Linked DNA regions of Homo sapiens. The protein of the gene in region 1 purifies or fractionates together with the protein of each later gene. This does not show direct contact. Each region holds a gene or a part of one and is shown in the gene's direction. Other genes may lie near its edges. The genes, in order: HRG, FBLN5, FBN1, P4HA1, IMPACT, PPP1R7 and KAT6A.

Evidence for each region.
Region 2: the proteins of HRG (region 1) and FBLN5 purify together in Homo sapiens (affinity purification with mass spectrometry; one large-scale study listed by BioGRID and IntAct). This does not show direct contact.
Region 3: the proteins of HRG (region 1) and FBN1 purify together in Homo sapiens (affinity purification with mass spectrometry; one large-scale study listed by BioGRID and IntAct). This does not show direct contact.
Region 4: the proteins of HRG (region 1) and P4HA1 purify together in Homo sapiens (affinity purification with mass spectrometry; one large-scale study listed by BioGRID and IntAct). This does not show direct contact.
Region 5: the proteins of HRG (region 1) and IMPACT purify together in Homo sapiens (affinity purification with mass spectrometry; one large-scale study listed by BioGRID and IntAct). This does not show direct contact.
Region 6: the proteins of HRG (region 1) and PPP1R7 purify together in Homo sapiens (affinity purification with mass spectrometry; one large-scale study listed by BioGRID and IntAct). This does not show direct contact.
Region 7: the proteins of HRG (region 1) and KAT6A purify together in Homo sapiens (affinity purification with mass spectrometry, with the first as the bait; one large-scale study listed by BioGRID). This does not show direct contact.

What each region holds. Positions count from the first base shown.
Region 1 is NC_000003.12:186,675,393-186,679,481, forward strand, and holds the end of HRG (histidine-rich glycoprotein precursor), read left to right. Parts: intron 1-1,630; coding exon of another isoform or gene 1,631-1,654; coding exon 1,655-2,491; 3' UTR 2,492-2,842; downstream 2,843-4,089. UniProt on the Homo sapiens protein: Plasma glycoprotein that binds a number of ligands such as heme, heparin, heparan sulfate, thrombospondin, plasminogen, and divalent metal ions. Binds heparin and heparin/glycosaminoglycans in a zinc-dependent manner.
Region 2 is NC_000014.9:91,941,195-91,944,694, reverse strand, and holds part of FBLN5 (fibulin-5 isoform 1 precursor), read left to right. Parts: intron 1-1,733; coding exon 1,734-1,788; intron 1,789-3,500. UniProt on the Homo sapiens protein: Essential for elastic fiber formation, is involved in the assembly of continuous elastin (ELN) polymer and promotes the interaction of microfibrils and ELN. Stabilizes and organizes elastic fibers in the skin, lung and vasculature.
Region 3 is NC_000015.10:48,481,710-48,486,353, reverse strand, and holds part of FBN1 (fibrillin-1 isoform a preproprotein), read left to right. Parts: intron 1-857; coding exon 858-980; intron 981-2,410; coding exon 2,411-2,536; intron 2,537-4,573; coding exon 4,574-4,644.
Region 4 is NC_000010.11:73,006,164-73,010,681, reverse strand, and holds the end of P4HA1 (prolyl 4-hydroxylase subunit alpha-1 isoform 2 precursor), read left to right. Parts: intron 1-778; coding exon 779-875; intron 876-2,389; coding exon 2,390-2,460; 3' UTR 2,461-3,465; downstream 3,466-4,518. UniProt on the Homo sapiens protein: Catalyzes the post-translational formation of 4-hydroxyproline in -Xaa-Pro-Gly- sequences in collagens and other proteins.
Region 5 is NC_000018.10:24,442,869-24,447,736, forward strand, and holds part of IMPACT (protein IMPACT), read left to right. Parts: intron 1-180; coding exon 181-284; intron 285-2,524; coding exon 2,525-2,598; intron 2,599-4,868. UniProt on the Homo sapiens protein: Translational regulator that ensures constant high levels of translation upon a variety of stress conditions, such as amino acid starvation, UV-C irradiation, proteasome inhibitor treatment and glucose deprivation.
Region 6 is NC_000002.12:241,170,113-241,174,980, forward strand, and holds part of PPP1R7 (protein phosphatase 1 regulatory subunit 7), read left to right. Parts: intron 1-4,868. UniProt on the Homo sapiens protein: Regulatory subunit of protein phosphatase 1.
Region 7 is NC_000008.11:42,044,966-42,049,833, reverse strand, and holds part of KAT6A (histone acetyltransferase KAT6A), read left to right. Parts: intron 1-531; 5' UTR 532-856; coding exon 857-1,456; intron 1,457-4,868. UniProt on the Homo sapiens protein: Histone acetyltransferase that acetylates lysine residues in histone H3 and histone H4 (in vitro). Component of the MOZ/MORF complex which has a histone H3 acetyltransferase activity. May act as a transcriptional coactivator for RUNX1 and RUNX2.

The sequences.
Region 1 (4,089 bases):
TGCAAGAAAAAAGATACAGAGAGTATCCCACAACTGGGGAAAGGAGTGCAATTGCCAGATTACACAAAAAGTATGAAAACTTTTCCAAGAATTGAAGAGGGGTAACAATTGGCAGAAAATTAAAATCATGTCCAATTCAACCAAACTTGAAGGAATTTGAAAATGCTCTTTGTAGTCGGGACTCTAGTGCTGAGACTTAGTCATTCCTAAGCTTATATTATTGGGCATAGAATCTAAGAGGAATATATCAGCCTCAAATTTATTATGTAAATGTATATAAAATAAGATGCAAAACCATATTTTGCATCTGTCTCAGAAATCTTTGGTCTATTTTTTACATGAGTACAAAGATTTGCTTCACGAAATTTTTCATATCAGAAACAAAACTTAAAATAATCCAAACATCCAATCCCAAGTTAAAAAAAAGAAAAAGGAACAAAGGGCAGGATTGTCACCATGAACATGGCTCTGTCTTTTTTTTTTTTTTTTTTTTTGAGAAGGAGTTTTGCTCTTATTGCCCAGGCTGGAATACAATGGTGCCATCTCGGCTCACCACAACCTCTGCCTCCTGGGTTCAAGCGATTCTCCTGCCTCAGCCTCCTGAGTAGCTAGGATTACAGGCATGCGCCACCATACCTGGCTAATTTTGCATTTTTAGTAGAGAAGGGGTTTCTCCATGTTGGTCAGGTTGGTCTCAAACTCCTGACCTTAGGTGATCCACCTGCCTCAGCCTCCCAAAGTTCTGGGATTACAGACATGAGCCACCGTGCCCGGCCTCTGTAGCTATTTTTTAAAAAATTAAACTCTGAACAAGGAAGAGAGAGAAGAGGTCAAGTGTTCAGCCTTTAGGAGTAAGGGATGTTGATACCATCAAGCCTCAGTTAAGAATATCAGTTATAAGGCACTAGTTTTCCAGTGTTGGTCTACAGATGGGTGCCAGGTCATAATATTGTTTCACCACTCTGTGTAGTAAAAATGAAAAAAAAATAAGGATAATGAAGTTTTTTATATCTAACATTTATCCATCTAAAGGACAATCCTTTACTCTGATATTGTGTTTCTGGCTCTTTCTTTTTTTTTTAAATCAAAATTTCATTCCAGGCTGGGCATGGTGGCTCATGCCTGTAATCCCAGCACTTTGGGAAGCTGAGATGGGTGGATTACTTGAAACAAGGAGTTCAACATGGTGAAACCTGTCTCTACTAAAAATACAAAAATTAGGAGTCTGGGCAACAGAGTAAGACTATGTCTCAAAAAAAGAAAAAAAAAAATTAGGTGGGCATGGTGGCTTGGGCGTGTAGTCCCAGCTACTTGGGAGGCTGAGGCAGGAGAATTGCTTGAACCTGAGAGGTGGATGTTGCAATGAGCAGAGATCGCACCACTGCACTCCAGACTGGGTGACAGAGCGAGACTCAGTCTCAGAAAAAAAAAATAGTTTCTTTTGTGAAACAATGATGGTGGTAAATGATAGTTATTGTTAATATTTTAAATATCAACTGGGCTAGATAACAATTTGAGAATCTTTTTTCGTAATACTTTTTAAATTGATTTGTGGAATCTATGATCTGGGAGCCATTGGTGTAAATCAAGTCAAGTATCTAACATCTTCTTTTATGTTACATGATGATAGGCACTTTTCTGTGACCTTTTCCAGGAACATGAGAACATCAATGGTGTACCGCCTCATTTGGGACATCCCTTCCACTGGGGTGGGCATGAGCGTTCTTCTACCACCAAGCCTCCATTCAAGCCCCATGGATCTAGAGATCATCATCATCCCCACAAGCCACACGAACATGGACCCCCACCTCCTCCAGATGAAAGAGATCACTCACATGGACCCCCACTTCCACAAGGCCCTCCTCCACTATTGCCCATGTCCTGCTCAAGTTGTCAACATGCCACTTTTGGCACAAATGGGGCCCAAAGACATTCTCATAATAATAATTCCAGTGACCTCCATCCCCATAAGCATCATTCCCATGAACAGCATCCCCACGGACACCATCCCCATGCACACCATCCTCATGAACATGATACCCATAGACAGCATCCCCATGGACACCACCCCCATGGACACCATCCTCATGGACACCACCCCCATGGACACCATCCCCATGGACACCATCCCCACTGCCATGATTTCCAAGACTATGGACCTTGTGACCCACCACCCCATAACCAAGGTCACTGTTGCCATGGCCACGGCCCACCACCTGGGCACTTAAGAAGGCGAGGCCCAGGTAAAGGACCCCGTCCCTTCCATTGCAGACAAATTGGATCTGTGTACCGACTCCCTCCTCTAAGAAAAGGTGAGGTGCTGCCACTTCCTGAGGCCAATTTTCCCAGCTTCCCATTGCCGCACCACAAACATCCTCTAAAGCCAGACAATCAGCCCTTTCCTCAATCAGTCTCTGAATCATGTCCAGGGAAGTTCAAGAGTGGGTTTCCACAAGTTTCCATGTTTTTTACACATACATTTCCAAAATAAAATGTGATTCCTTTGAAGAGGAAAATGAATAATACATTGAATTAGAAACATAAATAAAATGACCAGTAATTGTGAAAATTACAGTTCTTTTCAACCTACTTTCATACTGAAGATGCAGCAAAATGTGAATGGGAAAAGAGATGGCCTGAGAAGAGAGATCAAATGGAAAGGAGAGGAAAGAACTCAGTGCTGCCTATTAGTAGTTAATTCTGTCACTCACCACTACATCACTTGAGACAAATCTATGCCACTCAGAATCTCCTTCTTTCCTGGACTTAACTCTAATTCTAGAGTCTCTGTTACTGCTTGGGCTATACCTGGGCATACTAATAAAGTATGGTATTGAAACTATTGTTATCATTTATTTCATTTTATTTTCTAAGTTCCAGGGCACATGTGCAGGGTGTGCAGGTTTGTTATATAGGTAAAAGCATGCCATGGTGCTTTGCTGCACCTATCAACCCATCACCTAGGTATTAAGCCCAGCATGCTCTAGTTCTTTTTCCGAATGCTCTCCTGCTTCCCACCCTCCCCCTATTTATTATTATTAAAGTGACCTAAATTCTCTCCTCGTGATTATTACTAGGCATCTAAATTTTCTTTTGGAAAAATAAGTTCTAAATTCAGTATTGAAGCAAACAAACCTCTGGCTATAAATTGCAAAGAAGCTTGCTAACATGAATCATGACCATAAATTCAGGTGCATAAGAAATGTCACTTTATGCTCAGAACAAATTAATTTCTATTTGAGGATGCCATCCTACTGGCTTAGTGGAAATTTAACCCCAGTCCTTCTTGGAGTCCCCTTTCCCTGCCCTGCTACTTTCCACACAAAGTTGGGCCACAGTTCTAGGATCTCACACCATGCCAAGCTGTCCAGGTGGTAGGAAGCAGGATAGTGACTATCCCTCAGCCAGGGTGACTGTTGGACCAATGATCATCATCATGAGTGATAGCCATCCTGCTCAGGGATAGTCACAACCCTGTTCACATCACTCTTTCAGTCTGATTTATCTGCTACTTCTGTAGAAAACTGGGGGTGCAGGAATGTCTGTACACTAGCCATGGACATGACTGCCAAGGTATGGCATATGGCTGCTCTCTCCCTGGGATCTTGCTGTCTTCCCAGCTGCATGCCCAGAAAGCAGGGCAGAGATCTCCTCTGCCTCAGAGACCCCTTACCTCACTCTTCTCCCTATACCTTCTCCCTCAGCTAACGACTCTCTTGCTAGTCTCAGGTAAGTTCACTTTATTTATTTTTAGGGCCAGAAGACTTTTTCCACACTATACTCCTCTTTCTTTTTCCTCCTCAAATCAGGACTCAATCATTTGAAACAAACTAAAAGAATTCAGATTCTGTCTATCTTCCAACTGCAATAGTGATACTCAAAGTATTTCATAATCAACATGACCCAAGCACTGACCAATCAGACCAGAAACAACAACCTATCAGAACAGTCACCATCCATAAACAACCAGCGTGACCACACTGGCAGGTGCAGCTGAATGTGGCCCTGCAGAATCACATTCCTCCTGGAGGCATGGACACCAGGTCAGCTGCTTGAACAGGGAGAGGAGAAAGGTGAGACCCATGGAGG
Region 2 (3,500 bases), on another chromosome or scaffold:
AGTGGCTTTTTTCACTTAACATAATACAGTCAGGGTTCATTCATATTGTAGCATGTGTCAGAATTTCCTTCCTTTTTAAGACTGAATACTATTCCCTTGTGTGTACAGACTGCATTTTGTTTATCCATGTATCCATCGAAGGACTGCGTCCACCTTTAGGCTATTGTGAATAATGCTGCTATGAACACAGGTTTACAAATACCTGTTTCAAGTCCTTGCTTTTAATTTTTTGAGGGTATATACCTAGAAGTAGAATGGCTGGATCACATGGAAATTCTATGTTTAGTGTTTTGGGAGTCATCATACTGTTTTCCATAGAGACTGCACCATATTTACACCAACAGTGCACAGGAGTTTCACTTTCTCCACATCCTCCCTAACGCTTGCTCTTTTCCATTTTTTAATAGCCTCATGAGTGTGAAGTAGTAGAGATTTTGTATTTTTATTTTGTTTTTATTTTTTGAGACAGAGTCTCGCTTTGTCTCAGAGCGTGTACCACCATGCCTGGCAAATTTTTGTATTTTTAGTAGAGAGACAAGGTTTCACCATGTTGGCCAGGCTGGTCTCGAACTCCTGACCTCAGGTGACCTTCCTGCCTCGGCCTCCCAAAGTGCTGGGATTACAGGCATGAGCCACCACACCCGGCTGCTTTTGTATTTTTAAAGCAATCTTGCTGGCCACAATCTTACTGGATTAAAGCCTGTGCGTGGCGAAGGGCAGAGTTGCAGACTCCCAGAGCATCACTGTCTTGTGCATGGCAGAACTGAGCCCAGGGTGCGTGACTCCTCCTCCTGTTTTCCCGCGGGTTTCATTTTCCCTGGGCTGTGCAGGTTCCCCGAGTCCTTTCCTCCATCAGGACCTGCTGGCAGCAGTTCCCGCAGGCCACACTCTTCAGGGGACAGGGCCACCCCAACCCATCCACTGATGGGGGATTTTCACACATGTGGACTCAATGCTCTGGTTCAGTGACTTCCTGTGACACCTTTCTTTGGTGCCACTCAAAGTGCCTCACATTCTCACTTTCTTTTCCTTTCACTGTTTGAGGGCATGATGATGGCTTATTCACTCTGTAATCATGTCAGCATAAAGATGTTCAAAAGTCAAGCACATCTCGCATAAAGAATAAAGACCAAGGAACTGGTTAATACCATAGTGGGAGGTTTTAGCTTTTTTGGGGGGTGGGGGGAGGACAAGGTCTCGCTCTGTCACCCAGGCTGGAGTGCAGTGGTATGATCTCAGCTCACTGCAGCCTCAAACCCCCTGGGCTCAGGTGATCCCACCTCAGCCTCCTGAGTAGCTGGGACTTTAGGCGCGTGCTATCATGCCCAGTTAATTTTTTTTTTAATTTTGTAGAAATGGGGTTTCACCATGTTGCCCAGGCTTGTCTCAAACTCCTGGGTTCAAGCAATCCTCTTGCCTCAGCCTCTCAAAGTGCTGGGATTACAAGCGTAAGCCACCGCACCTGACCTTAGCTTTTTTTTTTGAAGCAGCCAAACCCTTTATTAAAAAGTGTGATCTAACACATGATCCCAATGCAGGAGGCAAGTAGAAGAGGTGTGGTTCTGCTTGGGTGGTCGCGGTGTCTGGAACCACCATGACCTCCCTGGAGCACACCCCACCCCATACAAGCCCAAGGTGATATCACCGTTACACGTCACGGGCCGCATGCGACCCACACTCCCCTAGACCTGAATCTGTCTTGGGCATTTATATTTGACTTTTCACCTCCACAGGATACTCACTGTTACCATTCTGGCTCTCTGTCTTCCAAGCCCTGGGAATGCACAGGTAAGATTTTTATTTTTAAAAAATATCTACAAGCGTATTAAAATCCGGGGTGAGGGAGTCCAGCCTTGCGCTACGGAACCCTAGGTTTGTGGGGGTGGGAGTGGCTTTACAGTTGACCTCATCTGAGCTCTTCATTCTCAGAGGTTAACAGTGGAAGCTCAGAGAAAGTGAGACTTGGCCCAGGTGACATGACTTGTAAGTGACAAGGCTGGGGCTGGTACTCAGTTTCCTGACTCCCAGTCCAAGACTCTTTTCTATTTTATTATAAGTTCTAGGGTACATGTGCAGGATGTGCAGGTTTGTTACATAGGTAAATGTGGGCCATGGTGGTTTGCTGCACCTATCAATTCATCACTAGGTATTAAGCCCAGCATCCATTTTTAATCAGATCACATGGCCTCATTTGTGCCCCTCACAGCAGGCCTCAACCTACCTTCAGTGTTGAAAAGTAAAATATGCTGTAGTGTTTCTGGGCAATGGCACCTGAGGACCCCCACGGGTCTGCATGTGTTGCCACAGACACACCCCTCCTGGAGGAGGTGGGAGAGGAAGTGGGTGTTACCCAAACATCCCAGCATGTAGTGTTGCATAATTCAGCTCCAAACCTAGGAGGGCCCATCCCTGGGCTGAAACCCCTCAGAGGAGTAAGAAGGGGGTGGGTGAGGCCAGGCTCAGGGCCTTAGGGGTTCTGGAAGAAGCTTGCAGCATCCTGGACTTTATTTTAAGCAACAGGAGAGATGGACCCCTGTGTGTCAGCCCTGAAATGTGGGCAGATCCCTCCTGAAAACTCCGAGTGGCCTCTCTGTGTCTCTGGCTCAGGAAAGAAGTGAGAGAAGCCCTATCTCTGAGCAGGCTGAGGGCTGCAGGCAGGTAGGGGAGCATTTTCTCTCTTCATATTAAGAATTTTGAAGCATATTCAGGCCACTGGCAATGGGAAGGATTTTGGGAGGAGTAACAAAGAATTTTAGACCTTGCGGTTTTCTAAGGCAGCCTCATGGTGTACACATGAAGACAGGTAGGCCCCAAGGGCAGAGGTTCAGGGTCGTGTTTACTGCACTTTAGGCACGTTATATAGATTAACATACATCGTCCTTACCACCATTTTGAACTACGTACATACCCCCCCATTTTACAGATGGGGAAACTGAGGCATAGAAAAGTTACGCAGAGAGTAGGGGCTAGAGTGAGAATTTGAAGCCATGCCCTGGTCCAGCAGTCTTGAACCTATGCCAGTCCTTGACAACCAGGGCTGGAACCTGGATCTCCTGGCCTCCCAGCTTCCCGGCACAGCTTCCTGGCTCGTCTGTTCCACTTCCTTTGCCCCAACTCCCTGGGACCCCTGAACCCTCTCCCGGGAGTGCAGGCCATATACATCATCTCTGCAAATCAACCAACAGCTCAGCGAAGCCCAACCTCCGAAGCTGTAGAAAAGGCCAGGGATGGGAGCTCCTAGAAAATGTCAGGCCCTGGGGTCTTCCTGAAGAGTCCACCCAACACATTTTTTTTTTAAGTACATACATTTGTAGCTCAAGTTGTATGTAAAAGCTACAACCCTCTGGAATTGTTGAGATCTATCTCTTTCTGGAAGCATCTTTATGTCGTCATCTTGCTGAGGTTGAAATGGAGAAATTTACTCAATTCAACTTTTCTTAGAAAACTGACCACATCTCTGTGTAGCTTTTATTTATGTACAGACATCAAAATCAGGTAGA
Region 3 (4,644 bases), on another chromosome or scaffold:
AAGTCTCACATGGTTTCCACCCAAAACCATAAATCAGCCCAAAGTTTTCTGAAACATGGCCCAGGACAACTCAGAACTTCAACTCAGGTTATTGAAAAAGATTGGAACCTCAGCCAATCAAACTGAATTTCAAGTTTATAAGTGAATCTGTGGCCAAGAGAATTTCATCCACGTGCCTATTATCATAACTGAGATGTGTTCTCCTAGCACCCAATACTTCTCCTGCATTGCAAATGGCACATCATGCATGGTGCAATTAATTGTTCATCTGTCTCCTGGCCACAGTGTAATCATTTTGAAGTCAAAGATTGTGTCTGTCCCATTCACTATTAGAGTCTCATCTCTAGCATATAGTAGGTATGTCATTAACATTTGTTGAAGGAATCAGTGACTCAGTTGCCCTAGAATGCTTTTTCCCCTTTATTTGACGTATGCCTGGAAATGTTAAAAATGTGCCATGCTCATAAACACAGAGGGAGGTGTGTTAGCCCATTTTTGTGATACTGTAATAGAATACCTGAAACTGGGTGATTTATAATGAATAGAAATTATTAGTTCACAGTTCTGGAGGGTGGGAAATCCAATATCAAGAAGCCAGGATTTTGCATGGTCCTTCTTCCTACGTTATCCCATTGAAGAAAGCACGAGGGTGAAAGAGAGCAAGAGGGGGCTGAACTTGATCTTTTATAACAGCACCGATCCCACCATGAGGGTAGAGCCCTCATAGGATGATTACCTCTTTTAAAGGCCCTGCCTCTTAAATAGTGTTACAATGGCAGTTAAATTTCAACACGAGTATTGGAGGGGACAGACATCCAAACCATATCAGAAGGTGATATTATTTTCATTTCTTTTAGACATTGATGAATGCAGCATAATGAATGGTGGTTGTGAAACCTTCTGCACAAACTCTGAAGGCAGCTATGAATGTAGCTGTCAGCCGGGATTTGCACTAATGCCTGACCAGAGATCATGCACCGGTGAGTAGGTTCTAGCCTCATGTTGAATCTCTCAGTAGGTTCCTAAGTAAAGTAGTTTAGGGCCCAGGCTTTGGAGTCAAGCAGGCTTGAGTCCAAACCCTTGTTTGTCATATATTTTAACTGTATCCTTAATCAAGATACCTATTATTAGAATCCTCATCTATAAAATGAAGTTCAAATTGCCTGCATAAAATAGTATTTACAGAGCTTACCATAGTACCTGGCATATAATAAATGGAATATAAAATACATTTTCCTTCATTGACCAGACTTTTGAAGAGTTTGATGTTTTGGCCTAATTCAGTGCAACTCCAGGTTTATTCCTTGAACCATTGGCAACAGCATCACCTGAGAACTTGTTAAAAAAATGTAAAATCTCAGGCCCCATTCCAGATCTACCGTATCAGAAACTACTGAGGTAGATCCCAGGAATTTGTTTTCACAATCTCTCCAAATGATTTGGATGCATGCTAAAGTTTGAGAACCAGTGGTCTAATTTACACTTCCTTTTGTATCACCCTGGCTGCGAGAGCTGTGAGCCAGGTAGAGGTGAGAAACAAAGTGGGTAATAACATAGGCTTTGATTTTGGCTTGGCTTAAGAAGAGAATTTGGATTTAGGAACCAAAATTATTTTACTGACCTAGAAAAATGTCCCTTAAAAAATCTAGATATAAATTTGGCTACAAAAATTGTTGAAAATAAGGCCAGGCACGGTGGCTTACACTTGTAATCCCAGCACTGTGGGAGGCTGAGGCAGGCAGATCACCTGAGTTCAGGAGTTCAAGACCAGCCTGACCAACATGGTGAAACCCCATTTCTACTAAAAATACAAAATTAGTTGGGTGTGGTGGCACATGCCTGTAATCCCAGCTACTTGGGAGGCTGAGGCAGGAGAATCGCTTGAACCTGGGAGGCGGTGGTTGCAGTGAGCCAAGATCGCGCCATTGCACTCCAGCCTGGTGACAGAGTGAGACTCTGTCTCAAAAAAAAAAAAAAATTGTTGAAAGTAAATATTATTACTAAGAGCATCTAAGTAGGTATGGTTATTTCAAGTAATTCTTACCTTAAAATATTGCTAAAACAGTTGATAGAATTCAGGCATTTATAATTTGACAATAGGGAAAATAAGATTTATAATAATTTTTGAATGATAAATTAAATGAAAGAAAGATTTTAAATAAATAATAGACTTTTAAGCAGGTGTGGACGTTGCCCTTGAGCAGTATATTATAAATATTGAAAAATATTTTTTCCTTTTTTACCAAGGATAACCCAATGGGCTAGTTTATGCAAAGCTTCATTTGGATTTGAGAGTTAATAGTCTTATGCTAGTAGGCTAAGTTTATTTGACTGCGGTCAGTTAATGTTTTCTCACTGAACAGTGGAACCAATATCAACAACCTGTGGTTGTTGGTTTTATTCTTTGCAGACATCGATGAGTGTGAAGATAATCCCAATATCTGTGATGGTGGTCAGTGCACAAATATCCCTGGAGAGTACAGGTGCTTGTGTTATGATGGATTCATGGCATCTGAAGACATGAAGACTTGTGTAGGTAAGCAAAGAAGACAGAATTTTTCATCTTGTCTTGTTAGTCATAAGCACTGTTAAATTACATAAAGTTAGTTTGGGTCAGTGATAGAAAGATTCCATAGGAAAAGTAAGGATATTTAGAGGCACAATACTCATATTTTAACCAGCATTCCAAAGAGAGCTTTCTTGTGGCTATTAAATGGTACTCTTGTCAGATATGTTATGAGGACTGACTGGCCATTCGTCAGCTCCAGATGGACATTTCTTTTATGCCTATCCATTACTTTTGTCCACTTAACCCTCCTTCTGCTTTGACTATCATGTAGGCTTTTTAAATCCTTGACTAAAGGCAAACAAAATTTACTTCTGACAAGAATGCAGTAAACTTTAGAACTGATCTATTTGTTTTGTATAGTTTCTATTGTTATGCCTTCAAATTTGATAAACTTTTCTTCTACGATCTCTAATCTGCCTTTCCTCACATACAGTGTATTTTTCATCTCAGATGTTGTAGTTTTCACCTCTAAAAGTTCGACTTGGGTATTTTTTCATATATTCTGTGTCTCTGCATAAGTTCAATCATTCCTCTAGCTGTTTGAACACATGGAATACAGTTATAACAACTTTTAGTGTCTTTGTCTCCTAATTCTGTCATCTGCATTGGTTCTAGGTCATTTGAATAAATTGACTTTCTTCCTTATTTTAGGTCATATTTTCCTGCTTCATTGAGTGACTGGTAATTTTTGATTGGATACCAGATAGTGTAAATTGTGCCTTACTGAGTGCTAGATATTTTTGTATTCCTAGAAATATTTTTGAACTTTGTTCTGAAGTGTAAATTACTTGGAAACACATGGATCCCTTTCAAAGTCTTGCTTTTAAGCTTTTAAGCTACACTTAGTCTAGGGGTAATTTTGCTCTGTTAGTGAGGTAAGACCCTTCTGGATATTCTACCCAATTCCCTGTGAATTATGAGGCTTTCCAGTCAGGCTGGTGGGAACAGGCACAATCCCAGACCCCCTGTGAACTTTGAGGATTGTTCCCTCTCATTTTCTTGGGTAGTGCTTTCCCCAGCCTTGAGTAGTTTGTTTCCTTATATGAATGTGCTGGTCACTACTCATCTGAATACTTGCAGAAGACTCTTAGCAAATCTCTGGCATTGCTTTCTTCTGTGTAGCTCTCTCCTGTCCTTTACTCTGCCCTATGAACCCTAACTACCTCAGCCTTCCAGGATGCCCAGATTCATCTCCTCAACTCAAGGACAGTGCCTGGCTCCATCTGGTACCTCCTCCTTATGCCATGAAGTTAAAACTCTCCTATTCAGTAATCTCGGGCAATTGTAGGATTCACCTAGTTTTTCTTTCTCTCAGGGATCACTGTCTTTTGTTGCCTAATGTCCAATGTCTAGAAAACCACTTTTTAAGGTATCTATTGTCTATTTTTTTTGGTTGTTTCATCTGAGAATATAATTTTAATTCCTGTTATTCTATCTTGGCCAGAAGCAAGAGTCTGGTATTGATTATATTTACATTTTTATCACATTTATCTTCTGAAAGCCTTTACTGAAAATGTTTGAAGTCCTAGAATTAAAATGAATGTCATAAAAAATGAATAATTTTTAATTTGGAAAAGAAGTGAAGTCTTAAACTACTTACACTAAGACAACCAGTTCATCTATCCTTTCTTTCAAAATATGAAAACTAAATTGTTATCATCATGCAGACTGAATTAAACTTTTCATCCTGCAATAGAGTATGCTGTTCTAAAAAGTTTTCTAGACTGTCACATAAACGAGCTCTAAACTCAGCATGGAGCCCATCTGTTTATTTGATTAACTGGCCTGCTGCTTATGGGCCAGATGAAAGCCAGTCTGAATAATGAGCTTGCAATGTAAAGAATGAAGAGCAAATGTAAATTGGCCTCTAAAATTTAACATTGTTTTTCTGAGGGAAAGCATTTTACCTTTTCTAATGTATTTGTCATAGTTATTATGTCTCGAGGGGAAAGTACTCAATGATATCAAATAGCTACATATATTAATAGTATATATGTTTTACAGATGTCAATGAGTGTGACCTGAATCCAAATATCTGCCTAAGTGGGACCTGTGAAAACACGAAAGGCTCATTT
Region 4 (4,518 bases), on another chromosome or scaffold:
GCCCAGGCTGGTCTTGAACTCTTGGGCTCAAGTGATCCTCCCACCTCAGCTTCCCAAAATGTTGGGATTACAGGCATGAACCCCTGTGCCTGACCAAATTACATTTTTAAAGGTATTTTTATGGTCCTTGCCACGAGTACTTAGAGGTAATGAATGACCAGGAATTAGTATTTAAAATTTTTCATTTCTAAAATGGGTTCTGCATTGTGTTTTCCCCTCCATCTTGCTATGTAAGATATGTTAGCTTTCTTTTGGCAAATACTTTTGTTGTCAAACATTTTTATGGTATTTTTCATATGATCAAAAACGGTTCTTAAAGTGATATAACCATATTTTCAGAATTATATTAGAGGAAAATAAAATACTGCTATAGAGTTCTTCCGCAGGAACAAAGGGAAAATTACTGCTGAAAACGGCCGGGCACGGTGGCTCACGTCTGTAATCCCAGCACTTTGGGAGGCCAAGATGGGCGGATCATCTGAGGTTAGGAGTTCGAGACCAGCCTGACCAACATGGTGAAAGCCCGTCTCTACTAAAAATACAAAATTAGCCAGGCCTGGTGTTGCACGCCTGTAATCCCAGCTATTTGAGACGCTGAGGCAGGAGAATCACTTCAACCTGGGAGGTGGAGGTTGCAGTGAGCTGAGATCGTGCCATTGCACTCCAGCCTGGGCGATAGAGCAAGACTCTGTCTCAAAAAAAAAAAAAAAGTAATAACTACCGAAAGCAATTACCTGGCATTGTATACTTGGGGATAATTGTGAATTGTTCTCCATAGGGAACTGCTGTTTTCTGGTATAATCTGTTTGCCAGTGGAGAAGGAGATTATAGTACACGGCATGCAGCCTGTCCAGTGCTAGTTGGCAACAAATGGGGTAAATATTTCATATATTCTGCGAAGATAATGTAATTTTTGTTTCTTATTTTGGAACTATTATCTGTGTCTTAAAAACAAAAGCCCCCATGTTTGCTTAATATGATTTTAACATTGTACAGGATTCAGCCAAACAAGTGCCTAATCATAATACAAATTTGAAATCAGAATTTTGATGACAGATTTTATTTTTAACTATTTTTACTTATTCCAAGAAACAATGACTGACTCAAAATTGAATAAGACAATATCTTCCCCTCAAAGGGTTAATAATCTGATTGAGACATACTAATGGATTATAATGTAGTACATATTAATACAAAAATGTAAACAGAAGATGGTGACTGCCTAAGTTTGGGGAGTCTTCTTCAAAGCTTTTTCTTTAAATTTGGTCCTGAAGATAGAACAGCAGTTTTCCAAACATGTTAGATACCAGGTTCTAATGTGAGGCTCGAGTAGCACCTAATGTGCAAAATTTAAAGAGGCACTCACTCTCAGTCAGGGACATGCAAGTGCAGGACCACATTTTTAAAAAGTAAAAAGAAACAGGTAAAATTAGTTTTAATATCTATTAATTAGCCCCATGTATCCATTTCAATCTGTGTTACTAGCCACATGTTGAGTGGTTACATACAGGACATTACAAGGTTAAGGAGTGAGGCCTGATCAGGATTTTAAAATCTCCCCTTATGATTATAGTGTTTAAGAACCACTGGACTAGAATGAGGAGAGGCTAGTTGGTGAGAGAGAGTTTAGAAAGCTGTTTTCTGTTGTCTAAGTGGGAGATGATAATGGCCTGGATTAAAGCATCAGTGAAAGGGTTGGAGAGCAAATAGATTTGAGAGAGATGTAAGGAAAATTGTCAGGGTTTGATGAATAAAGTGTAGATACAAGGGTTGAAGAAGGAAAAAGAGTTAAGAATTAAGGTTCCTGCTTTAGATATTTTGACTGGGTTCTATGGTACCAGAGACAAAAAAAAAATAGAAAATTAACTGCTTTTGGGATACATTTTTACATGGTATACATTTTTTAAAGGTATTTTGGAAACTTGATGAGCATACAATAGCAATGGTTGATAAGAGAGTTGTTCCTTTAGAGTGCAAAGTTTGTGTTCATTATTGTCTTTGTATTTTGGAGGCTGTACTTTGAAAACAATACATAAAGCAATATTCTACTCTTACCTGTACCTGTATCTTAGGTCCATTTGTGTCTCATTTCAAGCCTCACATTGAACATTGGAAACTGTAAGAAATGCACATAGACTGGCAAATATACATGTGTATACATACATGTATGTACATACACGCACACAAGTGTGTACACATATGTATATAGGTATATAAAATCTGTGTTTTCAGCATTTAGCCAAGTTTTTAAGTAGCATCTGCCTTTATCCGGTTTTGGTGTTGAACTTTTATCCCATGATGAAACTTTGTTATAGACCTAGCTTTTAGAAACTAATTAAATACTGATTAGATTAAGGGGGAAAATTAATATATTACTTTTCTCTCACAGTATCCAATAAATGGCTCCATGAACGTGGACAAGAATTTCGAAGACCTTGTACGTTGTCAGAATTGGAATGACAAACAGGCTTCCCTTTTTCTCCTATTGTTGTACTCTTATGTGTCTGATATACACATTTCCTAGTCTTAACTTTCAGGAGTTTACAATTGACTAACACTCCATGATTGATTCAGTCATGAACCTCATCCCATGTTTCATCTGTGGACAATTGCTTACTTTGTGGGTTCTTTTAAAAGTAACACGAAATCATCATATTGCATAAAACCTTAAAGTTCTGTTGGTATCACAGAAGACAAGGCAGAGTTTAAAGTGAGGAATTTTATATTTAAAGAACTTTTTGGTTGGATAAAAACATAATTTGAGCATCCAGTTTTAGTATTTCACTACATCTCAGTTGGTGGGTGTTAAGCTAGAATGGGCTGTGTGATAGGAAACAAATGCCTTACAGATGTGCCTAGGTGTTCTGTTTACCTAGTGTCTTACTCTGTTTTCTGGATCTGAAGACTAGTAATAAACTAGGACACTAACTGGGTTCCATGTGATTGCCCTTTCATATGATCTTCTAAGTTGATTTTTTTCCTCCCAAGTCTTTTTTAAAGAAAGTATACTGTATTTTACCAACCCCCTCTCTTTTCTTTTAGCTCCTCTGTGGTGAATTAAACGTACTTGAGTTAAAATATTTCGATTTTTTTTTTTTTTTTAATGGAAAGTCCTGCATAACAACACTGGGCCTTCTTAACTAAAATGCTCACCACTTAGCCTGTTTTTTTATCCCTTTTTTAAAATGACAGATGATTTTGTTCAGGAATTTTGCTGTTTTTCTTAGTGCTAATACCTTGCCTCTTATTCCTGCTACAGCAGGGTGGTAATATTGGCATTCTGATTAAATACTGTGCCTTAGGAGACTGGAAGTTTAAAAATGTACAAGTCCTTTCAGTGATGAGGGAATTGATTTTTTTTAAAAGTCTTTTTCTTAGAAAGCCAAAATGTTTGTTTTTTTAAGATTCTGAAATGTGTTGTGACAACAATGACCTATTTATGATCTTAAATCTTTTTTAAAAAAATGTTTGTTTTCTGTGTGGTGTTTTTCGTATTTAAATCCGAATGTATGATGTGGCAGTAACAGGTTAACTTATGTAATTTCTTTAGTACATAGGGCTTAGGTTTATACTCTTGGTTTCCACTCACACTAATGTCACATGGTTAAGAAAAACTTAGGCTCTCTGAAGTTTCAGATATTTCATGAATCAAGATGTGCTTCCTTCAAAGAGAGCTCTAAAATACTTTACTGTGGTTATGAAGTTATTATGGGCCAGGCATGGTGGCTCACGCCTTCAATCCCAGCACTTTGGGAGGCCGAGGCAGGCGGATCACCTGAGGCTAGGAGTTCGAGACCAGCCTGGCCAACATGGTGAAACCCCATCCCTACTAAAATTACCAAAATTAGCCGGGTGTGGTGGTGCATGCCTGTAGTCCCAGCTACTTGGGAGGCTGAGGCAGGAAAATCGCTTGAACCTGGGAGGCAGAGGTTGCAGTGAGCTGAGATTGCACCACTGCACTCTAGCTTGAGTGACAGAGTGACTCTGTCTCAAAAAAGAAAAAAATTATTACAATAGTGGTACTTAAGACTTTCTCCTATTAAGAAATATGATGCTCTTTCCTAAGTGGCCTGAGGTAATCTGAAAATGGTTCGCTATTCACTTGACCCGGAGAACCCCACAAAATCATGCAAATCAAGAGGTTCCAATCTTCGTGTTCACTTTAAGAACACTCGTGAAACTGCTCAGGCCATCAAGGGTATGTATATACAAAAAGGCACGAAGTATCTGAAAGATGTCACTTTACAGAAACAGTGCATACCATTCCGACATTACAATGGTGGAGTTGGCAGGTGTGCGCAGGCAAAGCAGTGGGGCTGGATCTTCTAAGTTGATTTTTTTCCTCCCAAGTCCTTTTTAAAGAAAGTATACTGTATTTTACCAACCCCCTCTTTTCTCTTAGCTCTTCTGTGGTGAATTAAACCTACTTGAGTTAAAATATTTCGGTTTTTTTTTTTTTTTTTTTTTTTTTTTTTTAACAAAGTCCTGCATAACAACACTGGGCCTTCTTAACTAAAA
Region 5 (4,868 bases), on another chromosome or scaffold:
TTAGAAACTTTTTACTTAAAATTATAATTTAAATTTAATTTTGGTAGATAGCGATTAATGGTTATTTTAGTTGATTTGCCATGTAATTTACATTTCTTTCCCAGCTGCCCCCCCATTTCATTTTTTTCAGTATTTGAATGTAAGGCTTTTTAAAAAATAAAGTTTCTTTTACATTTCTAGAAGTAGAAGTAGAAGAATTACCTCCGATTGATCATGGCATTCCTATTACAGACCGAAGAAGTACTTTTCAGGCACACTTGGCTCCAGTGGTTTGTCCCAAACAGGTAAAGTTCCTTTGTCTAGCTCACTTTGATGATTACTAAAATAATTCAGGTAAATGATTTTGCAATAATCCCCTTGTTTTTACTTTTATGTTTTATTTTCATATAAGATAAAAATTATTTGTTCATTTTTCTACTCCCAAATTACTGTGAATCACGGAAGATTTGTTTTGTTTCTGTTTGTCTCTGCTTTCTTTCTTTTTTTTTGTGATGGTGTCTCACCATGTTGCCCAGGCTGGTCTCAATCTGGACTCAATCAGCCCTCCTGCCTCCAGCCCTCCCAATCCAAGGTATTGGGATTACAGGCATAAGCCACCTAGCCAGGCCTGTCACTGCTTTCAAAATTGTATCTAAACTCTGATTAGGGGTTAACCCTCTAATGAATCTTTAAATAAGAAATACCCATTGTGTTATTAGAGAAAATTATGATGCTTAATACCTTGTCAAAAAGAATTATTTGTCCTGTCGAATGGGAGTTCTGTGAAACTAAGTCCATTCCTCTGTTATTATTCAACAAAGGGGACAGTGGACAGACTGGCTAAACCAAGTCCTCCCTACCTGACTTACTTTCCTTTGTGCTTCTTGATCTTAGGTGACCATATTTCCACCCAGGGATATAAATGGGAGAGGTTTCAGCCATAAACTATTCCTAGGTCTTTGCCTTTCTCATTCTCCTTTCAGCAGAATCCTTTTCTTCTTCCTTGCTTCTATAATGTAGCTCAGCTTACATTATTGATGTACGAGGCAATTTCAATACTACCTGTAAAGTTACATTTTTAAAAATGTCTCATTTACTGCAGGTTTTAGGCATGAGTCTCTTCCTTTGGTCTTTGCAGCTACCCTACTCTTGAAGCTCTTTAAAGCCCTGGGCTTCAGGGATACAGCTCTTTGTACCAGGCTGTTTCACTCTCTGAAAGAGGAAGTTCTTTTCTGCGTTGACTTGTGGTCAAGATCATAACTTTTGGTGCAGACTTCTGGTCTTTTCTCTCAGGAATCCTATTTTGTCCCTGGCCCTTAGTCACATCTTCTTCCCAGGGTCCTCCTGAGACATTCTAATTCTGAATCTGTTTATTCTGGATCCTCTTTCTGTTTCTGATCACAGTCACTTAGATTTATAGCATTATAATTTGTGAGAGCTGAAACAAGTTTTAGAGGTCATTGTCTATTTTATTGATCAGAATTTGAGAACCTGAAAGATTATAAAATGATAAACAGAAGATTGCACAATTTGTGATCCAAATTGGTGTCCCCAACTCTAGCTCAGTCTTCCCTGCCACCAATATTTCTTCCATACTTCTTGCCATTACAACATCCCTGAAAAATCTGACCATGTGTCATTCTGTTCTCTCTCTTATCCACCTTCACACATGTAATCTTTGCTGATTTCCAATGTCTACAAGGGAAGATCTAAACTTATTACACAGATCCTTTGTAATATGGCCCTAGCTTATCATTCATGACACATCTTCTGTCATCTCATTCATACTCTAAGTTAAGCTGTGTAAAGCTTCCTGAACTTTTCTCTTTTTTGTTCCCACTAAGGTTGCCAGATAAAATACAGAATACCTAGTTAAATTTGAATTTCAGGTAAACATTATTGCATGGGATGTACTTATAGTAGAAAAATTACTTGTCGTTTATCTGAAATTCAAATTTAACTGGATGTCCTGTACTTTTATTTGCTAAATTTGGTCACCCAGTCCCTGTATTTTGCATATAGCCCTATTCTCTGTGTGGAATGTCTTCTTCCTGCCCCATCTTTCCTTTTGATGCAGGAGAACTGCCACTTATAAGACCTGGCTCATGTGACCTCCTCTATGAACCTTACTTGACTCCCAGAGAAAGATGTGGTTTTATAACATTTGGAACATACCACTATTGTACACCTGCTACATTGGATGTATACATTTGGTAAATTTCAGAGCTAGTTTTTAGAAGTTTTATATGATACATTTAAAATTCCCTACATGGGGAACAAACTTTCCCTTTGACATAGTAGTACCGAAATATTTGTTGATAATTAGTGCTCAAAAATACCAGGTCTGTCATTTTTATACCAATTATGAGTACCAGTCTCTGCCCCTAAAATGAGAAGGAAACTTTGGAAATGACTTTTTCAGAGTATAGTAGACTCTTTAAGTGACTATTTATTTTAATACAGCATGCTTCAAGGTATTTTTCTAGCATTTATTTACAGAGCAAATATAAAAAGCATACTTATTTATATTATTGCTGTTTTTAAGGTGAAAATGGTTCTTTCCAAATTGTATGAGAATAAGAAAATAGCTAGTGCCACCCACAACATCTATGCCTACAGGTGAGTAATCATCACAAGCTTTAGTATACTCAGTTTGTTAAAAATAGAGGGAAATGATGCATGATTTTAGAAAATAATAACTATTGTGTATTTTTTCCATTGTAATAGTAATAGACATGGAATATTTGGAAACTGCAGAAAAGATAAAAAAGAATTGAAGGGAAAAATCTGGCATTTTCTGCCATCAAATGTAACTGACAATATTTTGTTTTTTGTTTCATTTTTTTCTCTGCAAAGTTTAATTTTTCCCAATGCTTTATTTACCCTTGTATCCTGTTTTTTTCTTAATTAAACAAAAGCACTTTTTCATATTGTTATAACTGCTTGATAAATACTGTTTAATGGCTGTAAAATATTTGAGATGCCATACTACAATTAACCATTTCCTTTTAGTTTTTCATGTTTTTCACCATTATAAAGAGTGGTCCAGGGAACATCTTTGTATACTTTTTAGGTTATTTCCTCAGGATAGGTTCTGGTTGCTTGAGATTCTTTTTTGAAATGAAATGGGAATATAATAAAAGGAAGAAAGAATTCTTAGAAGTAGAATTATCAAAAAGTGTGAACAATTTTGAAACTCTTGATATATAGCCAAATTTCTTGCAAAGGTTTTGTTTTATTTTGGTTTGGTTTTTGAGACAGGGTCTCAAAAACCCTGTTGCCCAGGCTGGAGTACAGGGGCGTGATCTTGGCCCAAGCAATCCTCCCACCTCAGCCTCCCACGTTAACTGGGACTGTAGGTGCGAGCCACCATGCCCGGCATAATTTTTGTATTTTTTTGTAGTGACAGGGTTCTGCCATGTTGCCCAGGCTGGCCTCAAACTCCTGAGTTCAAGTGATCTGCCAACCTTGGCCTCCCAAAGTGTTAGGATTTACAGGTGTGAGCCCAAATGTTTTTAAAACCAATTTATGCTCCTGTAAGCAGTGAATTAAGAGTATTTCTTTTACTACATGAGTTTCAGTTTTGAGAATTCAGGTTTTTATATGCATCTTTGCTGATTTGTAAGTGAAGAGATGAAGGGCATTTGAAAAAATACGCAAATTTGTAAGACTTTAAAAGTACATAGTTTAGGCCTAAAATAAATCAGAACACAGGGACTTGGTGTAAATTTAAAATGTGATTGAGACTATTTGTAGAATCTAGGCTATCTGAAACTGAAACTCAAAAATTCATCATTTTGAGTAGGTGAGTTCTTAATATTACTAATTTCACATCTCTTTAAGTGCCAAAACTTACAAACAATTATTTGTTATGTAATTCCCCTCTTAATAGAGTATCACTGGATAGAATTTTAATGTTTTCTTAAGCAGTTATGGCCTTCAATAGGAAAATGAGGAATTAGACTACTCTCAGTCATTAAAATGGGCTGTAAAAATTGTAATGTTCATTTATTCTACATGTTTTTTGAGTGCCTACTCTGTGCCAAAACTTTATGTAAATTAACTCTTATTAGTTAGCAATTCTAGCACTGTAAAAAGGTTAGCTTTTTCAAGATCCCATAGTTAAGTGATGGAGCTGAATTTGATAATCCAATTTCATTTGTTTTCTTTATTTCACTCCTCTATGGCTGTGGCTACAGCTTCAACAATCTTGTATCTAAGCTATGTAAAAAAAGAAAAAAGTACTCATAGTATTTTAACTTTAATGTTCATAGTAGATGGTCAGTAAATATTTATTGAGTGGATGGATGGATGAAGGGAAGGAAGGATGAGTGAATGAATGAATGTGACTGCTGTAAGGTAACATAACTGACTTAGGTGTGTAGATGAGCTTTTATAGCTTTTAGTATTTACATTAAAAGTTTACAGCTTTTTATGGCCAGAGCTGGGAGGATGTCTTTACTACATTTACCCAGTTCCACATGATACCATTGGTAGGGCCCTAAGAAATCCACCAGATGGCATACTGTAACTGACACTATTTTTTTTTTCTCTCTCTAGCACTTATTTGCCAAGCTTATTTTACTGTATTGTAGGCCTACATTATTATTTCAGATATAGCTTTCTAGTTTAAATGGATAAAAATACCACGATTTGTCTCTAATATTAGTAACCATCCAGAGGAAAATTTAAATCTTTACATTCTTAGAAGAAAATAGAGAAATGCTTGATGGCTGGAATAAGATGAGAGGAAAGTATAAAATATTACCTTATGTTGGTTTTGTTGCCTTCATCTTTTTTTTATATGCTTTTTGTTTCACTACATCTTAAGGCTCTTTGAAGACAGATGCATGCCACTTACTTCCTTTATAATATGTCTTAGTACCTGT
Region 6 (4,868 bases), on another chromosome or scaffold:
TAGCCCAGATGAAAACTGAGTCAAAATCTTTGCTTTACAAGACTCCGGGTGATTGCAGTACACACAAAGGTTGGAGAAGCCCTGATCTAGGTATGGGTAGAACCTACAATTGTCATTTGACCAAATGGTTTGCAAACCTCAGCAGAGAGGCAGACGCATTCCCTACAGATATATTCCAGCACAACAGAAGGAAATGTTGGATGGGTTTCTGCAGTTAGTCATCTTGGAATTTGCCTTGTATTTGTCTTGTCACAGGTATGGTTTCAGGAGTAGTGTTGTGGAGTCAGCAGGAAGAGAAACAGAATATAAGAAGTTTTTGCAGTTCCTCTAAAGGGGTTGGGAAATGATCCCCGAGTGGAAGTCTTCAGTGCTAGGATTCCCTTAGAGAAATCTCCTAAGGTTTATTGCCTTTCCGCTAGCACGTGGCCCTGCAGAGACTGCGGCACAGGTGTCACCCTGTGATGCTGGGAATGTAGTAGTGTCCTCAGATACATTCAGTCTAATCCAGGATTCATGCTGAGTGTAAGGCATCATTCTTCCTTGTCTCTCCTCTAGCCGTGCTGCTGACCCTGCTTATGTCCTGTGCTTTCTCCTTTCCCCACTTTAAAAGGTCATCCAAGTTTCCCTAGAACACAGGTGGCCTGCTGCAAATGTTCCTTGCCCCTTATTAGTGGCACTGGGTCTTGAGTAGTGTCATGATGGGATACCAGAGCATGTCTGGGAAGATCAGAGCCAGAATTTGGCAGGTGATAAAGATGTACCAGGCCAGGGGGAGCCTCAATGAGTCCAGGTGGGTCTATGTGCAGCCCACCCTTGAAGGAAGGTGTGGCTGGTGGTAGGCTGGTTGAATTAGTGCATAGGGAGTTGGCAAAGAAGCCAGGGAACAACACAAAGAAACCAAACAACAGGAATAAGGAGTCCAGAGACAGAGGACCAGGTGATAGGGAAAGGGCACCTGGCAAAAAATTAGGGAGCAGGTTTGGGAAACGAGCTGATACTGAAGCAATGTTCCTGAAGCGTAACGATTCCTTCTGCATGCCCTGCCTAGGAACAGAGCATGGGGCACAGAGTGCTGAGACCACAGGCAGGGGCCAACCTGGGTACCACAGCTAGCAGGGAGGCAGGCAGGCTGGTGATCAATCACTAGGGGCCAGGTAGTGCCTGACCCTGTAACACAGAAGAATCCTGTTCCTTAGGCCACCAAAGATAGTAAAAAATAGCCAGAATTTGCACAGCGCTTTATGGTGTCCATACCTCTCTCCATTCTGATCCAATTATCACAGCAACCATGTGGATAAGGTCATATTACCCCATTTTACAGGTAAAGAATTGCATTCCAGGAAGGAAAGCTGCAAACCAGGAATTCTCAAACTCAGTTCCATGCTCATATCACATTTGAGAGGCACATCATTCATCTCTAAGGCAGAAATAGAAAACCAGTCTTAACAAGTTTCTGATAACCCACATACTATGTTTGTTGATTTTTCTGCCTATTTGTTCCAATTACTGAGAGGAGAATGTTGAAACCTTCCAACTATAATTGTCAATGGATCCATTTCTCCTTTCAGTTCCATCAGTTTTTGTTTCTTGTATTTTGAAAGTCTGTTATCAGGTGCATACATATTTAGAATTGAGGAATTCTTGATGAATTGATCCATTTATCATATGAAATGTTCTTCTTTCTTGCTTATCCTCTTTATCCTTGTCCTGGAAGGGTATCTTGTCTGTTATTAACACAGCCCCTTCATCTGTCTTATGATTAGCGCTCTCATGGAATCTTTCTCCATCCATTTCCTCTTAACCCATGCCTTTATAATTAAAATGTGTTTTTCATAAAAAGTATGTAACTAGATCTTGCTTTCTTCTCCAGTCTGAGAATCTCTGCCTTTTAAGTGGTGTCTTTAGACTGCTTACATTTAATATAATTACATTTAATTACATTTTGTGTAATGGTTGAGTTTAAGTCTATCATCTTAGTATTTGTTTTTTATTTGTCTCATCTATTCTTTGTTTACTCTTTCCTACCTACTTTTTGGAGTGACTTTTTTTTTTTTGCAGTCTATTTTAACTCTATTATTGGCTTATTTGCTATACCTCTGTATTAGTGTTTTCTTGTTGATTGTTTGGAGGGAGGGTTGTTTTAGCGATTAGAATTTAAAAATACATTTTTAATTTTCACCATCTATATATTTTACATTTAAATATCTTACGATCCCCATGATACCTTATCTTTTAAAGAAATTTAAAAATGGCCAGGCGCAGTGGCTCATGCCTGTAATCCTAGCACTTTGGGAGGCCAAGGCAGGTGGATCACCTGAGATCAGGAGTTTGAGACCAGCCTGGCCAACGTGGTGAAACCCTGTCTCTACTAAAAATGCAAAACTTAGCTGGGCATGGTGGCACATGCTGTAGTCCAAGCTACTCAGGAGGCTAAGGCACGACAATCACTTGAACCTGGCAAGTGGAGATTGCAGTGGGCCAAGATCGTGCCACTGCACTCCAGCCTGGGCAAAAAAGTGAAACTCCGTCTCAAAAAAAAAAAAAAAGAAATTTAAAAACAAGAAAACTCACTTATTTTACCTTTTCTGGCATTGTTTATTCTTTCGTGTGGATCTGAGTTTCCACTTGGTATTTCCCTTCCACCTGAAGAATTCTATTGTTTTGTCGTGCATTCTGCAGTAAACCAATCCTTCACTTTGATTTGTTTGAAAAATCTATTTAATTTGCCTGCATTTTTGGAATTTAATATTATGGATACACAATTCTAGCTTGAGAGATTTTTTTTTCCTTTTTAAGTACATTAAATACTTTGTTCTTTCATCCTCTGGTTTGCATTATTTCTCCTTTATAAAATTTTTATTATTTTAAAAATATTTTTTAAAAATAAATAGAGATGGGGCCAGACACGGTGGCTCACACCTGTAATCCCAAGGTGGATCACTTCAGGTCAGGAGTTTGAGACCAACCTGACCAACATGGCGAAACCCCGTCTCAACTAAAAATTCAAAAATTAGCTGGGCGTGGTGGCACGTGCCTGTAGTCCCAGCTACTGGGGAGGCTGAGACAGGAGAATCGCTTGAATCCAGGAGGCAGAGGTTGCAGTGAGCCAAGATCATGCCACTGTAGTCCAACTTGGGCAACAGAGCAAGACTTTCTCAAAAAAAAAAAAAAAAAAAAAAAAGGACGGGATCTTGCCATGTTGCCCAGACTGGTCTCGAACTCCTGAGCTCAGACAGTCCTCCTGCCTCAGCCTCCCAAAGGGCTGGGAGTACAGGTGTGAGCCACCACACACGGCCCTGGTTTGCATTATTTCTAATAAGAAGCCAGCAGTCATTTTTATCTTTTTTCCTCTGGCTGCTTTTTAATGTTCTTTTTAATCATTGTTTCTTATTTTGTTTTGTTTTTTGCAACTTGAATATAGCGTGCCATGGTGTAGTTTATTTTCTGTGATGTGTCAGGGTTAACTGGGTCTGTGAATCTATGGTCTTCATCAAATGTGGAAAGCTTCTGGAGACTATTTTCTCTAAAACTGCTTCTGCCCTTGCTCCTCACCCCGGTTTCTCTCTGAAAACCCAGTTATGCATGTTCCCCTGGCACTAGCGAGGCCCCTGAGGCCATTGCCTCCACCCTGCTCCACCCCTTGGGCTTTCATCTTGCTGTGCTTGTTTGTATAATTTCTGTTGTTAAATCTTCAAGATCATGATCTTATCATCTGTAGTAGCCTATCTGCTGTTAAGCCCATGTCATGAATTTTTTATTTCAGATACTGTATTTTTCTCAACTCTAAAAGAACATTTGGCTTTATTTTTTTTTTTTTGGTAGATTATTTTTCTCTCTTCATTAGATTCATGTTTTCCTTTAAGTCCTTCCTTCTTCACGTCTTGTAATTTTTTATTAGATCCTGGGCTTTATGGTGTTCAATTGTTGAATGTCTGGAATTTATGTTGTTTTCCTTCAAAACATACTGAACTTTATCTGACAGGCAATTAAGTTACAGCTTGATCCTTTTGAGGCTTGTTTTTAAGCTTTATTAGAGTACATCTAAATAGTCTACTCCGTAAGATTAATCTAGCACTGTTTTGAAGCTGTGGCCCTCCTAGGATCTCTGGTGAATATCCTGTGTATTTAAGTTCTCTCCACTGTGGTTGACGGGAACACAAACATGGACCTGCTATGGGTGAGCTCTGGGCATTCTGCATCTTGGGGCTGCTTAGTAGTTCTTCGACCAGCCTTTAGCTTTTCACTCTGCCTAGCACAGCTTCATCTTCAGTCCAGGATTCCACAGGATACCATGTGGATTTCTGGAGGCTTTTTCCCTACATAGCTCACTCCTATCTATACATTCCAGCTCCCTTTGCCTCCCCAAACTACAATCACCATCTCAACTCTGTGTGGCCACCAGGCTCTGCTTGGGTTCCGCCTCCTTGTGGTCCTGAAAGTTCCTCCAGGCAGAAGGCCGGGATGATCACACCACCCACCTCATTTGTTTCCTGTCTCTCAAGAATCACTATCTGTGTTGCCTGTTGTCTGATGTATAAAAACAATTATTTCATATATTTTATCCTCTTTTTTTTTTTTTTGAGATAGAGTCTTGCTCTGTCGCCCAGGCTGGAGTGCAGTGGCGCGATCTCAGCTCACTGCAAGCTCCGCCTCCTGGGTTCACACCATTCTCCTGCCTCAGTCTCCTGAGTAGCTGGGACTACCGGTGCCCGCCACCACGCCTGGCTAATTTTTTTTGTATTTTAGTAGAGACAGGGTTTCACTGTGTTAGCCAGGACAGTCTCCATCTCCTGACCTCATGATCCGCCCGCCTTGGCCTCCCCAGGTGCTGGGATTACAGGTGTGAGCCACCGCGCCCGGCCTATTCT
Region 7 (4,868 bases), on another chromosome or scaffold:
GTATTCATTCTTTTCATGTAAGAACTAAAATTTTCTCAGTCGTTTTCTGCCTTATTGACTGTTTTTGTCTACTCTGAATGTCTAGAATTTTGAAAGATGAAAGATTCACTTTTACTTTCATTGCAGGATTCTTTCTACTAATCCAGATACTTGTTGAAGTGCTGACTAGTTTCTTGGGGAAAGATGTCAAGGAAGAGTTGAAATTCCTAGACTGGTGAGCAGAGATTGCGGAGTACAGAATAGCCATCACCCACTCTGGTTAGTGGTAGCTTAAAGGTCATTCTTAGAACATGTCATCGTGTTTCCTCATTGTATCCTAATTACTCATCTTTTTTTTTTCTTTTCTTTTTTTTTCTTTTTTATCCCAATGGTTTACATACATGATTGTTTTGGAATATTAATAGATAAGTTTGGAAATTCTTAAGGGTGCCTAGTAAACACTTGCTGTTTGATTGCTTTATGATGAGGATGCTTATTTTCATTCGAAATAGGTCTTGGTAGAAAACTGACCTTATTTTCATTGCTTTTCAGGCATAAGATGCACATTTTTCTGCTCTGGAGCCGGGAATGAAATATTCTTGAGTTCTTACAACTTTATGACGAGACCCATGTGTGGTGCTATTGAGAAATTCATTGGGAAGTTGGAAGACATTTCAATCAACAGGTTGTTTTGGTTTCTATAGTACAATTGGGGTGGCATTCTGTTTTGTGAAAGGAGGAAGGACTTAGGCCAGAAAACTCATATGCTATGGTTAACTGGTTCCCAGCCTCCGAGAATCTTGTTTTCCATGGTGTAAAACTTACTCAGCATCAGGATAAGGGATAACGACTCTATGGATATACAGAATCCTTCACCATGGTAAAACTCGCAAACCCGCTTTATACTGAGTGGATTTTGGAGGCCATCAAAAAAGTGAAAAAGCAGAAACAGCGTCCTTCAGAAGAAAGGATATGCAATGCTGTGTCTTCATCCCATGGCTTGGATCGTAAAACTGTTTTAGAACAATTGGAGTTGAGTGTTAAAGATGGAACAATTTTAAAAGTCTCAAATAAAGGACTCAATTCCTATAAAGATCCTGATAATCCTGGGCGAATAGCACTTCCTAAGCCTCGGAACCATGGAAAATTGGATAATAAACAAAATGTGGATTGGAATAAACTGATAAAGCGGGCAGTTGAGGGCTTGGCAGAGTCTGGTGGCTCAACTTTGAAAAGCATTGAACGTTTTTTGAAAGGTCAGAAGGATGTGTCTGCATTATTCGGAGGCAGTGCTGCCTCTGGCTTTCACCAGCAGTTACGATTGGCTATCAAACGTGCCATTGGCCACGGCAGACTCCTTAAAGATGGACCTCTTTATCGGCTCAACACTAAAGCAACCAACGTGGATGGGAAAGAGAGTTGTGAGTCTCTTTCCTGTTTACCTCCAGTGTCCCTTCTTCCACATGAAAAGGATAAGGTAAGAATGGCATATGCTTCGGGGTTTATAGAGCTGATGATATAGGATGCTACAAATTCACATTTCTGGGAAGTTATATTCAAGTTTTTTGTTTGGGGACTTCTGTGGAGTGATCACCTCTGGTTTTTTATTGGTGAGTTGTAGCTATGAGAGCTTCATAGATTTGTTCTGGTACTTTGAAATATTTGAAGCCTAAGATTAAAAATGTAGAATGTTAATCTGACTAAAAGAACTTATTTACATTACAATGAAAAAGTGACATATGAGTTTAAAACTTTTTTTTAAATTTTTTTTTATTATTTTGCTTGAGGAGTACTCCAGCGTGAGACTTTAAAACTTTAACTAAAGGTTCTTAGAACACCTTACTACTGGAAGTTGATGAGCAGCCAAATCATGGAGACTTGAATTTGAAACAAGCAGATGACTCTGAGAACATTTTTCTGTTTTCCATTTTGTTGCAGATTACTCGTTAGACAGAAATGAGACAGATTCTCATGACCCATAGGCGCAACTAAGCAAACTTAGCAATTCTTGTTTCTGCTGTTTGTATTATAGCTTTCTGTCATGTATTATGGCTTTGCATATGATGAAGTCCTAAATGCTATTTATGACAGCTGTAGTTGCATGGGACAGGAATACAGTATCCTAAACTAGAAAAGTTCTGGAGGGTCTGGAACAGTAGTTCATGCCTGTAATCCCAGCGCTTTGGGAGGCTGGGACAGGAGGATGTCTTGAGCCTAGGAGTTTGAGCCCAGCCTGAGCAATATAGCGAGACCCCACGTCCACCAAAAATAGAAAAATTAGCCAGGTATGGGCGCGCCTGTAGTCCTAGCTACTTGGGAGGCTGTGTCGGGGAGGATTGCTTGAGTACAGGTGTCTGAGGCTCCAGTGAGCTATGCTGTCACCACTGCACTCCAGCCTGGACAACTGAGACCCTGTTCTAAAAACAAAAAGAAAGGTAAAGTTCTGGAGAGTTGGGAGTTTTGATGCCCAGATGTGTACTTTACTCTGTTGTGTTTTAGGATGTTATTGTATATAGTTGAAATTATGACTTCTTAAACAGTAAATTTTGGTGCTTAAATAGATATTTGGAGATTAGGAGAATTTTGTTAGTACCTGTTTTTTACATTGACCTAGTATCTTAGCTGTAAATTTACTTAAGGTGCTCTGAATTATAGTTCCTTGGAGAGCAGTGATGCTTTAAGTTGCTGCACACCTTGGTAGACATAAGTAAAATGATCTTCATTTTGCTTAAGATGATGGAGGATACTCCTAGGGTGGAAAGATGGTAAAGTTAACATTGAATGTATTTTGAAAATTGGAGATTTGATCTCAATTTGTTGTATTATTAGCAGCCCACTGAATACCTGTAGATTTTTCTTTAACAATTGAAAATTAACGGTATTTTTCTTTGATGAAATTTTTAGAGATCTATTTCAGGGTTCAATTTTCCCTGTGAACATTGAAATAAAACATAATCTTACTGTTATTACCCTTGAAATGATTCTCATACAGTCATGAATTGATAGAGAATCTCATTCATAAAATGGCTCTATGTAATTTGAGCATTTATTAAAAGTATATATTAAAAATTCAGGGTAGACAAGTAATTAAAATGCTTTATTCTATATTTAAGTGCTGTAAGAACTCTTACCTGTAGAAACTTTATCACATGTGGCTGAATTTAAATACAGTTATCGGATTTCTACAATTATTAAATGATCTAACAGGTTAACTGCCTGGAAACAGGAAATAATTTATAGTTAGATCAGTTCAGTGCCATACCTGTGAATTGGATGTTATAAGTTCCTGTTAGGCCACCTGTTTGCTTTTATTTATTTATTTTTGAGACAGAATCTCGTTCTGTCACCCAGGCTGGAGTGCAGTGGTGCAGTCTCACTGCAACCTCCGCCTCCCAGGTTCAAGCGATTCTCTTGCCTCAGCCTCCCAAGTAGCTGGGATTACAGACATGCACCACCACGCCCGGCTAATTTTTGTATTTTTAGTAGAGACGGGGTTTCACCTTGTTGGCCAGGCTGGTCTCGAACTCCTGACCTCGAGTGATCCACCCGCCTCTGCCTCCCAAAGTGTTGGGATTACAGGCTTGAGCCACCGTGCCTGGCCTGTTGTTTGCTTTTATTGTAATTACACTTGCTTGAATTATCAATAGATAATTTTAAAAAATATTAGCTATATAAAAATGTCATTTGAGCATATTTTTAAAAGGTAGTAAATATAGTACAGTGCAAGACAAATCCAAGTCCTAGAACCCTGAGATTTTACTTTTGGAAGGGACCCTGAGAACCGTCTAATCCAAGTCCTTATTTTGCAGCTGAGCTAAGGACCTTTGTTGAGACCATTTCATAGCACCTTTGCATTAAGAAAAGTTTAATTCAGTAGAGATGTGCTGTTTTGCTTTGACTGGAGTGCAGTGGTGTGATCTCAGCTCACTGCAACCTTCGCCTCCCGGGTTCAAGCGATTCTTCTGCCTCAACCTCCTGAGTAGCTGGGATTATAGGTTTGCGCCACCACGTGTGGCTACTTTTTTTTTTTTTTTTTTGTATTTTTAGTAGAGACAGGGTTTCACCATGTTGGCTAGGCTGGTCTCAACTCCTGACCTCAAGCGACCTGCCCACCTCGGTCTCTCAAAGTGCCAAGATTATAGGAATGATCCACCGCACCTGGCCACATTTGATTTTGGAGAAATAAAGCAAGAAAAACAAAAGTGATTTAATAATTGAAAAAATGAAAAAGAAATGCCCATTTGCTTACATAGCTTTCATATATAGTGTTTTTTTGTTTTTTTTTTTTTTTTGAGATGGAATTTCGCTCTTGTTGCCCAGGCTGGAGTGCAGTGGCACGATCTTGGCTTACTGCAGCCTCCGCTGCCCAGGTTCAAGCAATTCTTCCTTCTCAGCCTCCCATGTAGCTGGGATTACAGGCATGCTGACCACCATGCCTGGCTAATTTTGTATTTTTAGTAGAGACGGGGTTTCTCCCTGTTGGTCAGGCTCATCTCGAACTCCCAACCTCAGGTGATCCGCCCACCTTGGCCTCCCAAAGTGCTGGCATTACAGGCATGAGCCACCCTGCCTATAGTGTTAACTGAAGTAACTAAATTTAGACATGTTGGAAAATAGAGTTTGTTTCTTCAGGTAGACTTGTATATGTACTAATCTCATTGGAAAACTAATTTCATGATAGTATCTATTCAATTAGAGTTGGTGAGCTCTGTTCTATATTTTTAAATGGAGTCTTATTTTCAGTAGTGAATTTCCTGTGTGACTTCCCCCAAAGATATGAAAAGTTTACATTAAAAATCGTAATACAGTGAACTCTAGGATGAGAGATTATTCCTTTGAACAGATTATGTCTGCTCCTTTTATTGTATTTTAACTATTTTCTTTCCTCT